Homo sapiens: one gene and its partners. Changing the gene in region 3 together with the main gene of any one other region gives a genetic interaction. Each region holds a gene or a part of one and is shown on either strand. Other genes may lie near its edges. The genes, in order: PBRM1, NF1 and BRIP1.

Region 1 (3,656 bases), on a different chromosome or scaffold from region 3:
GCCGACGGTAGCGATTATTTTCAACATTCTTCCTAATTATGTCAAATGTAAGGGGTGGTTTGTTAGGAAAGTTGGGATCCACAGCAGGAATTTCTGCTAAAGAATCGCTGTAGCATCTTCCCTCATCATCCTGATGACTCATGACTGACACAAAAAGATTGTGGATAAGCTCTTGAATCAGCAAAGTCACATTTGGGACATGAGAGTCCTCATCTCCCTCCAGGTCTCTGCGTGTTTCAAGCAGGACTTTGTGTAGAACAAGAGCATCTTTGTAGATCAAAGACTCCGGCTCATTGTATGTACAGGCATTATTAAACATCATGACAAAGTCCTCAACCATAGAGTCAATATCTTGGTACTTGTTGGCCATCATGTGACTTCGAATTTTTTCCATGTCCATGGGCTTTTTAATAGTCAGATAGTAGTCAGGCAACTCAGATCTAGAGGGAAGCCTCAGAAATATGGCACTGAGGCGGCGACCCCTCTTATCAGTATAGTTCTTTACAGCTTCATAGACCTCATTTAGTTTCTGCTGCATTGGAGTCATGTATTTTGATTTTTTAGGAGAAATGCCACTCTTCCTACCTAAAGAGAGATATTTAATGTTAAATGAATAAAATAAATGAACCTAAATTTGTATACAGATGGTAGCATAACCACAAGGGACGATTCCAAGTAATTTGTAAAATCTAGCAATTAGCATGTCTATAGTGAAATATAACCTGCAGACAAAAAAGTACTAAAAATTTTTTTTAACTGTTTTCAGTAATTATATTTTTGATGGGAGACTACTGTAAGGTTGAGAAAGCTGTGAATAAGAAGGAATAAAGCAAATGAGTAGCTATGTGACATTCTATCACCTCTGGTATCCTGGAGAACTGAGATTTTCATCATGGGATAAAAAGAGATAACGGATGTTAAAACGTAGGACATTAATAATTACCTTGAGGCCTTTAATCTCAATTGAAAGTATCACTATGAACTTATGATGTAATTTATCTTTAAATATAAACATACAAACAAACACACAAATTTCCTAGCTCTGTCCACTGAAAATCGTACAAACAATGACTACCTCAGTAGCAGTATAGCCCACATTAGAGTTTTAAAATACTAATTCCAAATAGTAATGTTGAGGAGCCCTCACCTTTCAGCAGAAACATGAAAAAGGTAGGGCTCCTTGGTAAATGGCTGATTCCCAGTCTGGTATATCTTCAAACACTAGACAGTAAAGAATCTATCAATGACTTCTTACCATGACTTCATGTCAATAGAATATAGGAACCGGCTGGGCGTGGTGGCTCATGCCTGTAATCCCAACACTTTGGGAGGCCAAGGTGGGTGGATCACCTGAGGTCAGGAGTTCAAGATCAACCTGGCCAACATGGCGAAACCCTGTGTCCATTAAAAATACAAAAAATTAGCCGAGTGTGGTGGTGGCGCCTGTAATCCCAGTTACTCGGGAGGCTGAGGCAGGATAATTGCTTGAACCCAGGAGGTAGAGGTTGCAGTGAGCTGAGATCAAGCCATTACACTCTAGCCTGGGCGACAGAGCGAGACTCTGTCTCAAAAAAACAAAACAAAAAGAATACAGGAACGAGCCTGAACCAGCCTGAGTATCAATAAGGACAATAACTTCAATTACAACTCAGCCATATGTTTAAGTCTGGTAGTTCTTAATAATACGTACAAACAAACAACAAAATGGGTAAATATTGAAGGATGTTAGTAAACCAATACATATTTTGAAAACTGGTAAAGGTGAAAACAAAATAAAACAAAAATCAAGCCTTTATCCTTTCAAAAAGCAAGACACACACAAAAAAAACACTGTACCACTGGCTAATCAAATATTAGATAAGGCAAAGTTTCTCTATAGCTAATAAGGAATAAAATTAAAAACTATCACAATTTTACATCCCTTTCATGAATTAATAATTAATGAAGTATGCAACAACACCTGTTAACAGAAAGCCATAAATAGATTTCACATGTACCTGATGGAAGACCATATATTACCTATGAAGTCGGTTTTTCTGCCTAAGGGAGAGAACAGGGGATCAGACCTCAATCTGATCAAGCCTCTGGCTCCAACTACCAATTTATAGGAAATACAAAGGACAGAGGAACACATGAAAGTACAACATAGTGGGCCAGGAGCTGTGGCTCATGCCTGCAATACTAGTACTATGGGAGGCCAAGGTGGGCAGATCACTTGAGCCCAGGAGTTCAAGACCAGCCTGGCAACATAGCAAAACCCTGTCTCTACTAAAAATACAAAAAAATGAGCTGGACGTGGTGGCGTGTACCTGTAGTCCCAGCTACCCGAGAGGCTAAAGTGGAAGGACTGCTTCAGAAGGGAGGTGGAGGTGGCAATGAGCCAAAAATGTGCCACTACACTCCAGCCTGGGTGACAGAGTAAGACCCTGTCTCCACAAAACAAAACAAAACACAAAACACACAAAAAACCCCACAACATATGGATGCAATCAGCAAAACCCAGACTATGGGAAACTACAGCACAAATCTAATTTCTTCAACAGATAAATGGTAAGGGGTGGAAAAAGAGAGAGCTGGAGGGGAGTTTACAGATTAAAAGAAGTATCGGGCTGGGCATGGTGGCTCACACCTTTAATCCCAGCACTTTGGGAGGCCGAGGCGGGCAGATCACGAGGTTAGGAGTTCAAGACCAGCCTGGCCAATATGGTGAAACCCTGCCTCTACTAAAAATACACAAAAATCAGCCGGGCGTGGTGGTGCACACCTGTAGTCCCAGCTACTTGGGAGGCTGAGGCAGGACAATCACTTGAACCCAGGAGGCGGAGGTTGCAGTGAGCCGAGATCGTGCCACTGACTCCAGCCTAGGCAACAGAGCGAGATTCCGTCTCAAAAAAAAAAAAAAAAAAAAAAAAGAGGTATCAATCAGTTGCAGTATGTGGACTTTATCTGGATTCTACTTTAACCAGACACTGCCTCAAGACATGATACAACATAAGGGCAGCAAACCCCTTATAAAGTATCACCACCAAGGTGAAACTTAATCTAATCGCACCTTCAAAGTTAACTTCTATTTATAAGAAATAAGGGAAATAAAGAAAAAAGTTACAGATATCACAAGGAAGCAAGCCTGTCTAACCTAGAACTTGGGACACTGTACAGGAAAGTGACCTGATTTCTTCAATGAGTTACTGGCATGTGGAAAGAAAAGGAAGGAGACTGCTCTAGATCATGGGTTTAAGAGTATAACAATCTGCTGGGTGCGGTGGCTCATGCCTGTAATCCTAGCACTTTGGGAGGCGGAGGCGGACGGATCACTTGAGGTCAGGAGATCGAGACCAGTCTGGCCAACATGGTGAAGCCCTGTCTCTATTAAAAATACAAAAAAATTAGCTAGGCATGGTGGCGTGTCCCTGTAGTTACAGCTACCCTGCAGGCTGAGGCAGAAGAATTGGGGGAACCCAGGAGACGGAGTCTGTAGTGAGCCGAGATCGTGCCACTGCACTCCAGCCTGGGCAACAGAGTGAGAATCCGTCTCAAAAAAAAAAAAAAAAAGAGTATAATAATCAAATTTATTATATAGAACTTAATGAGAGTCTGATTTGAGGAAATCAACTATAAAAATACATTTGTGAGACAATCAGAAGAACTTGATAATT
Region 2 (3,656 bases), about 30 Mb from region 3:
TTCAAGAATTCATCCTCTCTTACAATTGAGATTTCTCAGTTAAAAGTTTCCTGACCTCCCACTTTCTTTGCAGTTGTTCTGAACACTTACATATACCAGATACACGCCAAAAGTAGAAGAAAAAAAGTTAAAGAAAAGGCAGCATTAAATTTAGGCAAGGCTTCGAAGAGTTGATCATCTGGCAACATGGCAAACCGGATGGGTTCATTATAAAACAGGAAGTGCAGCATTACAACATGGGGGGAAAGGGCAAGGACAGGGAAGGGGTCACTAGTGAAGAGCCCATGTTAAGTTGATTTTAAAAAAGAAAGCAAGCAAGCTTCACACGATCTTCTTAATGCTATTACGTTTGAAACTGCCAGCGCTTCTTTGCTTCTGCACTTGGCTTGCGGATCCGTGGCGAGTTCGTCCACTGTTACAGTGGCCAGTGGTAGGGGAGAGTTCAACGTTCTCCTTGTCGATTCCTGGAGAAAAAGAGAACAGCCAGTTACTTCTTCTTTTCCTTCCAGGACTGAATTTCATTGCAGTCATGTGTCGCTTAACAACGGGGACACATTCTAGGAAACAATCATTAGGCGATTTTGTCTGTGCAAATATTGTGGAGTGTACTTACATGAACTTAGATAGCATAGCCTACTACACACCAAGGCTATATGGTATAGCCTGTTTCTCCCAGGCAACAAACCTGTACAGCAGGTTACCATATTGTGTACTTTATGTAGTTGTAACACAATGCTAACTATTTGTATATCTAACACAGAAAAGGTACAGTAAAAATACAGTATTATAATCTTTCGGGACCACTGTCTATATGTGTTCTGTTGTTGACTGCAATGTTGTTATGCAGCACATGACTATATTTGTGATAAGATACAACCTGGCAAATTGTTTATGCACATTTCATTTTAATAGTCAATTGCTAAAATGTTTACTAAGTTAATGTCACATGGAAAACTTCACATTTTGTTATGCAAAGTTTGCTATCATAGCAGAAAATAGCACAAGAAAAATGAAAAGACAAGTTGCAAGGAAAAGCTAGAGGCTGGCAGGCTTGAACTAAATGAAAGGCTAGCAGCCACCAGGGAAGACTAGTGCTCCTTCCTCCAAATCATACCAGAAACTTCCAGCAGAGGTCATCTTCTAGCCTTATTCACATCCTCATTCATGTTTATAAACAGAATATACTCTCCAGCAGCAGAAAGTACTGATCTTTCCAGCAAATTTGTCACTTCAAAGAAAACTCAAGATGCTTTTATTTTTTTAATCACAGTGCCTATCCCAAAGAAACTATTTACTGAGAAAATAATATATCACAAAGGTCATACTGTAGAATCTTTGCTTCTTTTCAGCTATGCCAAGTCATTTCACATTCTGCAACCTTAAACAGATGCCATTTATTTCTCTTGAGGAGGAGATTAAACCTCCAAAACCTGGGCCTAACAATGATTGATTATTTATTTAGAGACAGGGTCTTGCCCTGTTGCACAGGCTGCAGTGCAGTGGTGTGATCATAGCTCACTATAACCTTGAACTTCCAGGCTCAAGCTATCCTCTCGCCTCAGCCTCCCAAACAGCTAGGACTACAGGTGCATGCCACCATGCCCAGCTAATTTTAAAATTCTGTCTAGAGATAGAGTCTCACTATGTTGCCAAGGCTGGTCTTGAACTCCTGGTCTCAAGCAATCCTTCCATCTTGGCCTCTCAAAGTTCTGGGATTACAAGCATGAGCCACTGCACCCCACCCCAATTAATATTATAAATAATCTAAGCAGTAACTTCAGAAAAGTAACCAGAAACTAAAATAAGATTTTTATTTTTATCTATCACATTAGGAAAGATTACAAATTGGGTAACAGGACTGTGGTCACCCTTGCGGAAGTAGTGACTTAAGGGGGCATGAGGATGGCTTCTTGGGATGCTGGTAATGTTCTGTTTCTTGATGTAGATGATGGATTTTCAAGTGTGTTTACATTTTAAAAGTTCACTAAGCTGAAAACTTGCAATTTGTGAACTTTTCTGTTAAACATCAATAAAATTTACCCCCAAAATTAGACTGATTATACTTACTGCTGGCATAAATTTTGGCGGGAAAGCAAACAGCTGCAGAACGTTTTAGTAATTTGTATCAAAATGTACATTACTGATTGATATTTACTGATACAAAAAGATGACCACAATTTTTGGAGTAGGAAAAAAACACCCACACACTGTGGGGAGAGGGCGTAGGGCTGGGTAAACATCTGCCAAAATATTTTATCTCTGTCAGAAGCCAAAGGACTAAAAAATATATTTTACCTCTGTATGGCAAGATTTCAGCTAATTTGTACTTTATTCTTCTTTATATATTGAAATTTTAAATCTTAGAATAGAAAAATTTCCATTTTTGGACAAAAAGTAATATTTCAAGTCAAGAAGTATTCATTATGTTACAGAAAATGTACATAGATCTACCCAGTTAGTTATTTGTTGGCTCATGAACAGGAAATGAACTTGGGATGACCTCCCTCTAGGAGCCACTCATCTTTCATTTGGATTCAGCTCTGAATTCGACTCAAGAGTATCAGGCATCTGTAAGCACGTGGCCTGGTTTACACGTGCTCAACAGAGATTTGCTGTCTTGAAAATCTGAACTGCTGTCAAAGGAACATGGGCATTTGTCAGTGACTGTTTATGAACATGTGCACTGCATCAGGCATATGAGTGCAAGGAAAAACATCAGCGACATTTCTCCAGGAGGTGAGCATAGCTGAACCACCACTGAAAATCTGTTCTATTCAAATCTTTTTTAAAACCCTTATTAAATTTTTTAAGGCTAGTCATGTTCTAATCTAATCTAATCTAATCATATGCATAGAAAGATGACTAGAAACATTCATGGAACTTTTCTCTGGGTAACAGAATTCTGGTCTATTTAAATTCTCTTCTGTATATTTATTTGCATCCTCTCCAGAGCTATTTACAAAAGAAATAACAAAACTGAAAGAAAGCTGCTCATGATCTCTGGAATGTGCCTTGAGCTTCTTTGGGATGTATGTTTGTGTAGGCTCTTTTAATTGTCTTGCGTATCTCTACAAGATAAAATTCAACCCATATTTTTTTTTCTCATATCCTTTTCCTTCATGATGCATTATTCTGTCTCTTGCCAGAACTACTTTCTCCTTCCTTGCTTTTAAATTAACTTGCCTATGATTCTACAACTTGTACATCCATCTTCCTCTACTGAGTAAAGGCACTGAGAAGGGTAAAGATCATTATTATTCATTTTTGTTTTCCTGTAAAATCTAGTTATTTTTTCAATACATTGAAAAATTATTTTCAATTAATACTGAATGAACTGAACACTTCCATTTTAAAATGTGATAGCTAGATACCTGTAATTCAGAGCCCCAAAGCATGCAATCCCTGATCTCCAGAGAGTGGTATAATATTTTTAGTTGAAAAGATAGAACTTTTTTTTTTCCCTTTGGCATCCTCCACTTAAAATTATGAATTTGTCAGCGTATTTGACCTTCCATTTCCTCAAATTTGCATTTGGCCTACAAGTTTCAAGTCCAGTAATTCTGAGTTGTTTCTTTAATAGAAAATAAGATTCAGGCAAAACTAGGACCTTAAAAAGACAAAGGTTTGAAACAACTTGGAGCTGGCCCGCATGCAGG
Region 3 (3,656 bases):
CATCAACTACCCAACACCACTGACTGGCTGAGATAAAAGAAACAATAACCTCTGTATTTGGCAATATAGAGATCACTAGTGATCTTGATCAAAACAATTTGCGTAGAATTGTCCAGAGAGCAACACTGCTAAGATCGATGAGGGAAGAATGTCAAGTGAGAAAATAGAATTAGCAACTACAGACAACTCTTTCAACAAGTTATGCTGTAAAATAAAAACCACAAAAATCTGCATGGCAAAACACCACCAGAAAAGACACAAATGGCAAAATGGGGTGGAAAGTATTTACAACTCTTATTGCAGGCAAAGATTTTAATTCCCTAATATATGAATGGGGTTCTATAAATCATTAAGAAAAAGAACCACAATAAGAACAAAAAAAGGACAGAGATGTCAACAGGCAGTTGACACAAAAGGAAATATAAATGGCCTTTAAAGATGCTTAATTTCATGCATATTAAGGAAAATGAATATTAAAACTACATTGGGATACCACTTTTCACCTAGCAGGCTAGAAGAAAACAATTTCCATACTCTTATACATTGCTGGTAGAAGCATACATTAGCCCCCCTGTCATCCACCTATTGTGTAAATGTTAGCTATATCTATTGAAATTACAAATATGTCTATGCTTTCACCCAACAATTCCACTTCTAAAAAGATTCCTATAGATATATTTGCATACAAATGAAATTATGTATGTTCAAAGTTATTCATTATAGCAGTTTAAGAGCAAAAAACTAGAAACAACCTCCTCTATTAATCAGAGGCTGGTTAAATAAACTATTGCATATCTATCTAATGGAATTCTAGATATCTATTTTTTTTTTAAACTGAGAAAGCTTTCTAGGTCTTAACATGGAAAGGTCTCCAAAATACACTGGGAATTGAAAAAAGCAAGTTGCAGAAAAATGTATGTATACTATGCCATCATTTGGAAAATAGTGAGGGACAAGAAAATATATCTAATATTGGTTCATAAATGAGTAATATGCATTGAATGATAAACTTGTTTAGGAGAACACAGACATTAAACAGATCAGGGATGGAACTGGAAGGAGGTTTTTACTATACAAATTTGTATACATTTTGTCTTCAAACCATGTGACTGTGTAACATTCAAATTTTTTTAAAGTGTAAATGTGAAGGAAACAGAAAAATGCTACAATAAATGAAATGGGATTCAGAGTTGGGAAGTTTTTTTCTATGGTAACAAGATTCTAGATCAACAACTTAATGTCTAATAAAAGAAAAATTAGTGTAAATTGTCATAAAGCTAGTACTAAATATATTATTTTAGAGTACTGAAATCTTGATTAATTAAAACCCATGAAACTAGAATCCTATTTAAATTGGAGAATAAAGCAATAAATTAAAGCCATGATCCAGAATTTTAAAATATATTAATTAAAAGCACGTTTAGTTTCTGGTTCAATATCCTAGACACATCCTTCGGGGCTATTATGTTATCCTGCCAAATTAGGAATAAGATTCACAATTATTCATTTTTAAAAATCACTTATGTTCATTATATTCTTGTGAACAAGACAAAAGGTTGGACTAGCCTTGTTTTTAAAGCTTAACTGGCAAGGAACAATTCATTTCCCAAGAAGCCTAGTTAACCAAAGTTTACTAACTTTAAATACTCTGGCATAATCAAACATATTTTTCATATAAAGGCAGCACAAATACACTAATAGACAAATCTTCTTACTTAATGAGGCTACAGCACACAGCTCGTAGGGGTTCATGATCTTTCTTCCTTATATTATTGTTGACCATACTATCTAGTTCATCCCGAGCAAACCGAAGCTGAACTTCTGTTACACTGTAACTTGCTGATTCCCGAGCACAGTCCTCGATGTTATGAGCTTCATCTAAAATGACAACCTGTTCTTTCAGATTTAAATCCATCTATAAGATAAAAGAATTTTCTTGTAAAACATTTGGCAAAATAGATTTAACAACAGCAGGCAAGATATTTCATTTTAAAATTCACACTATAGGCCAATATTGCAAATGCAATTACATAAGCAACAGAGATTCTAGGTCTTAAATAAAACTTCTGAAGCACTATGGCCAACCAAATATCAGCTCTACATTATTGTGTTTGCCATTTTTTTACTCTTAAAATACTTTGCAAACCTATCGACAGCAACAAAAATATGTCAGTGAGTCTGGATCAAGGTACCACAGGCTACACAGAAAGGTATAAAATCCCACTATGAAAGTGTTTCCAACATAATTTTACAAACTAATTATAAGACCTTTAAAAATAAAATAACAATATAAGATTAAAAGCATAAGACCTTTAAAAGTAAAATAACAATACAAGATTAAAAGCATAAAACCTTTAAAAGTAAAATAACAATACAAGATTAAAATGACTCTTAAAATACTAACATAATATATATGTTTTGTTTTAATCTGTCCTGCAATCCTTCTCCAACATGGGAGTTGGAGAATTGTTCTTCTCCAACTCCCATGTGATGCTGGCAGGACTATTAACCTGTGAATCAAAGGACATCACCACTTTCACAATGGGGGTAAGGCCCAGGATTGTCAGTTAAATAGAGTATTCCATCCTTCTGTGGTCACAGTGACTGGTTCAGGTTCAGGAACAGACATGTGATCCACGGTAGGCCAACCAGAGTAATTTGGAGGGACTAATATGTGGCCATGCTCTTTTCTCCAGGTGAGCTAGCTGCTTATGGTTATCTTTGTTCCATAAGCAAGAGTGAGAACTTGCCTGAGAATAAAGCCATCACAATAAAGAGAATCAAGTATTTTTTCTTAAGCATTTTTTAGGGTAGGTTTGTGTCACTTGCAATAGAAAGAGTACTGACTAATACAAGGAACTGTCACAAAGCAATTGTCAATGAGTTATTTTGAGGAAGTAAGAATACACAGACAGCTGAAAAGTTGAGAAAAAACCATGGAAGAGTAGGAAATATATTGGGGTTTAAAAGATAAGTAGGATTTGGATTTGGACAGACAAAGAGTGGACAGGGCATTCCAAAGAGGTGTCATCAAAAGCAAAGATAGAGTAAAGAACAAGGTATCCTCAAGGGAGTATGAGGTAATTTTTGAAGGATTCAAATTGGGCAGATCCAGGTCAGACTATTGAGCATCTTGAGTGTAAGCTTAAGAAATATGAACTTTATCTCATGAGCAAAGGAAGCAATAGATTTTTAGGCAGATAAAAGGATGTAATAAAAGCAATATTTGGAAAACTGACCTGGCATTGATATGCACAGTGTCTCAGAAGGAAGAGATCTAGTTAAGAGATAACCAAATAAGAGGTAGGATAGAAGGGGTAGTAAACATAATGCCTATTAATTTGGATCTTAAAGAAATAGAAAGCTGAGATGAATTGTGCAGTCAGATCTGAAGACAGGAATAACAATTGACTATGCCAAATTATTCACTTTTTGTCTTATGCTGTTAACAATTGCATGTCTCTAAAAAGAACCAGGCAAACAAACACAAATGCCATTATCTGAAGTTCACTTCTCAAAGCTCACAAGGCATAATTTTATTCCCCCACATAAGTTCTTCAAAACATAGTTTTTTCAGAGAAATGTTTCTAAATAATTCTTTTTGAATATTCATAAATGCAAAGAGAAATCCTGCTGTAATCCCACTTCAGTCACTA

Evidence for each region.
Region 1: changes in BRIP1 (region 3) and PBRM1 together harm fitness more than expected from each alone (negative genetic interaction), as found in Homo sapiens cells (one large-scale study listed by BioGRID).
Region 2: changes in BRIP1 (region 3) and NF1 together harm fitness more than expected from each alone (negative genetic interaction), as found in Homo sapiens cells (one large-scale study listed by BioGRID).

What each region holds. Positions count from the first base shown.
Region 1 is NC_000003.12:52,609,371-52,613,026, forward strand, and holds part of PBRM1 (protein polybromo-1), read right to left. Parts: intron 1,222-3,656; exon of another isoform or gene 1,164-1,221; coding exon of another isoform or gene 1,148-1,163; intron 586-1,147; coding exon 1-585. UniProt on the Homo sapiens protein: Involved in transcriptional activation and repression of select genes by chromatin remodeling (alteration of DNA-nucleosome topology). Required for the stability of the SWI/SNF chromatin remodeling complex SWI/SNF-B (PBAF).
Region 2 is NC_000017.11:31,370,821-31,374,476, reverse strand, and holds part of NF1 (neurofibromin), read right to left. Parts: intron 465-3,656; coding exon 322-464; 3' UTR 1-321. UniProt on the Homo sapiens protein: Stimulates the GTPase activity of Ras. NF1 shows greater affinity for Ras GAP, but lower specific activity. May be a regulator of Ras activity.
Region 3 is NC_000017.11:61,797,385-61,801,040, forward strand, and holds part of BRIP1 (Fanconi anemia group J protein), read right to left. Parts: intron 1,916-3,656; coding exon 1,716-1,915; intron 1-1,715. UniProt on the Homo sapiens protein: DNA-dependent ATPase and 5'-3' DNA helicase required for the maintenance of chromosomal stability. Acts late in the Fanconi anemia pathway, after FANCD2 ubiquitination.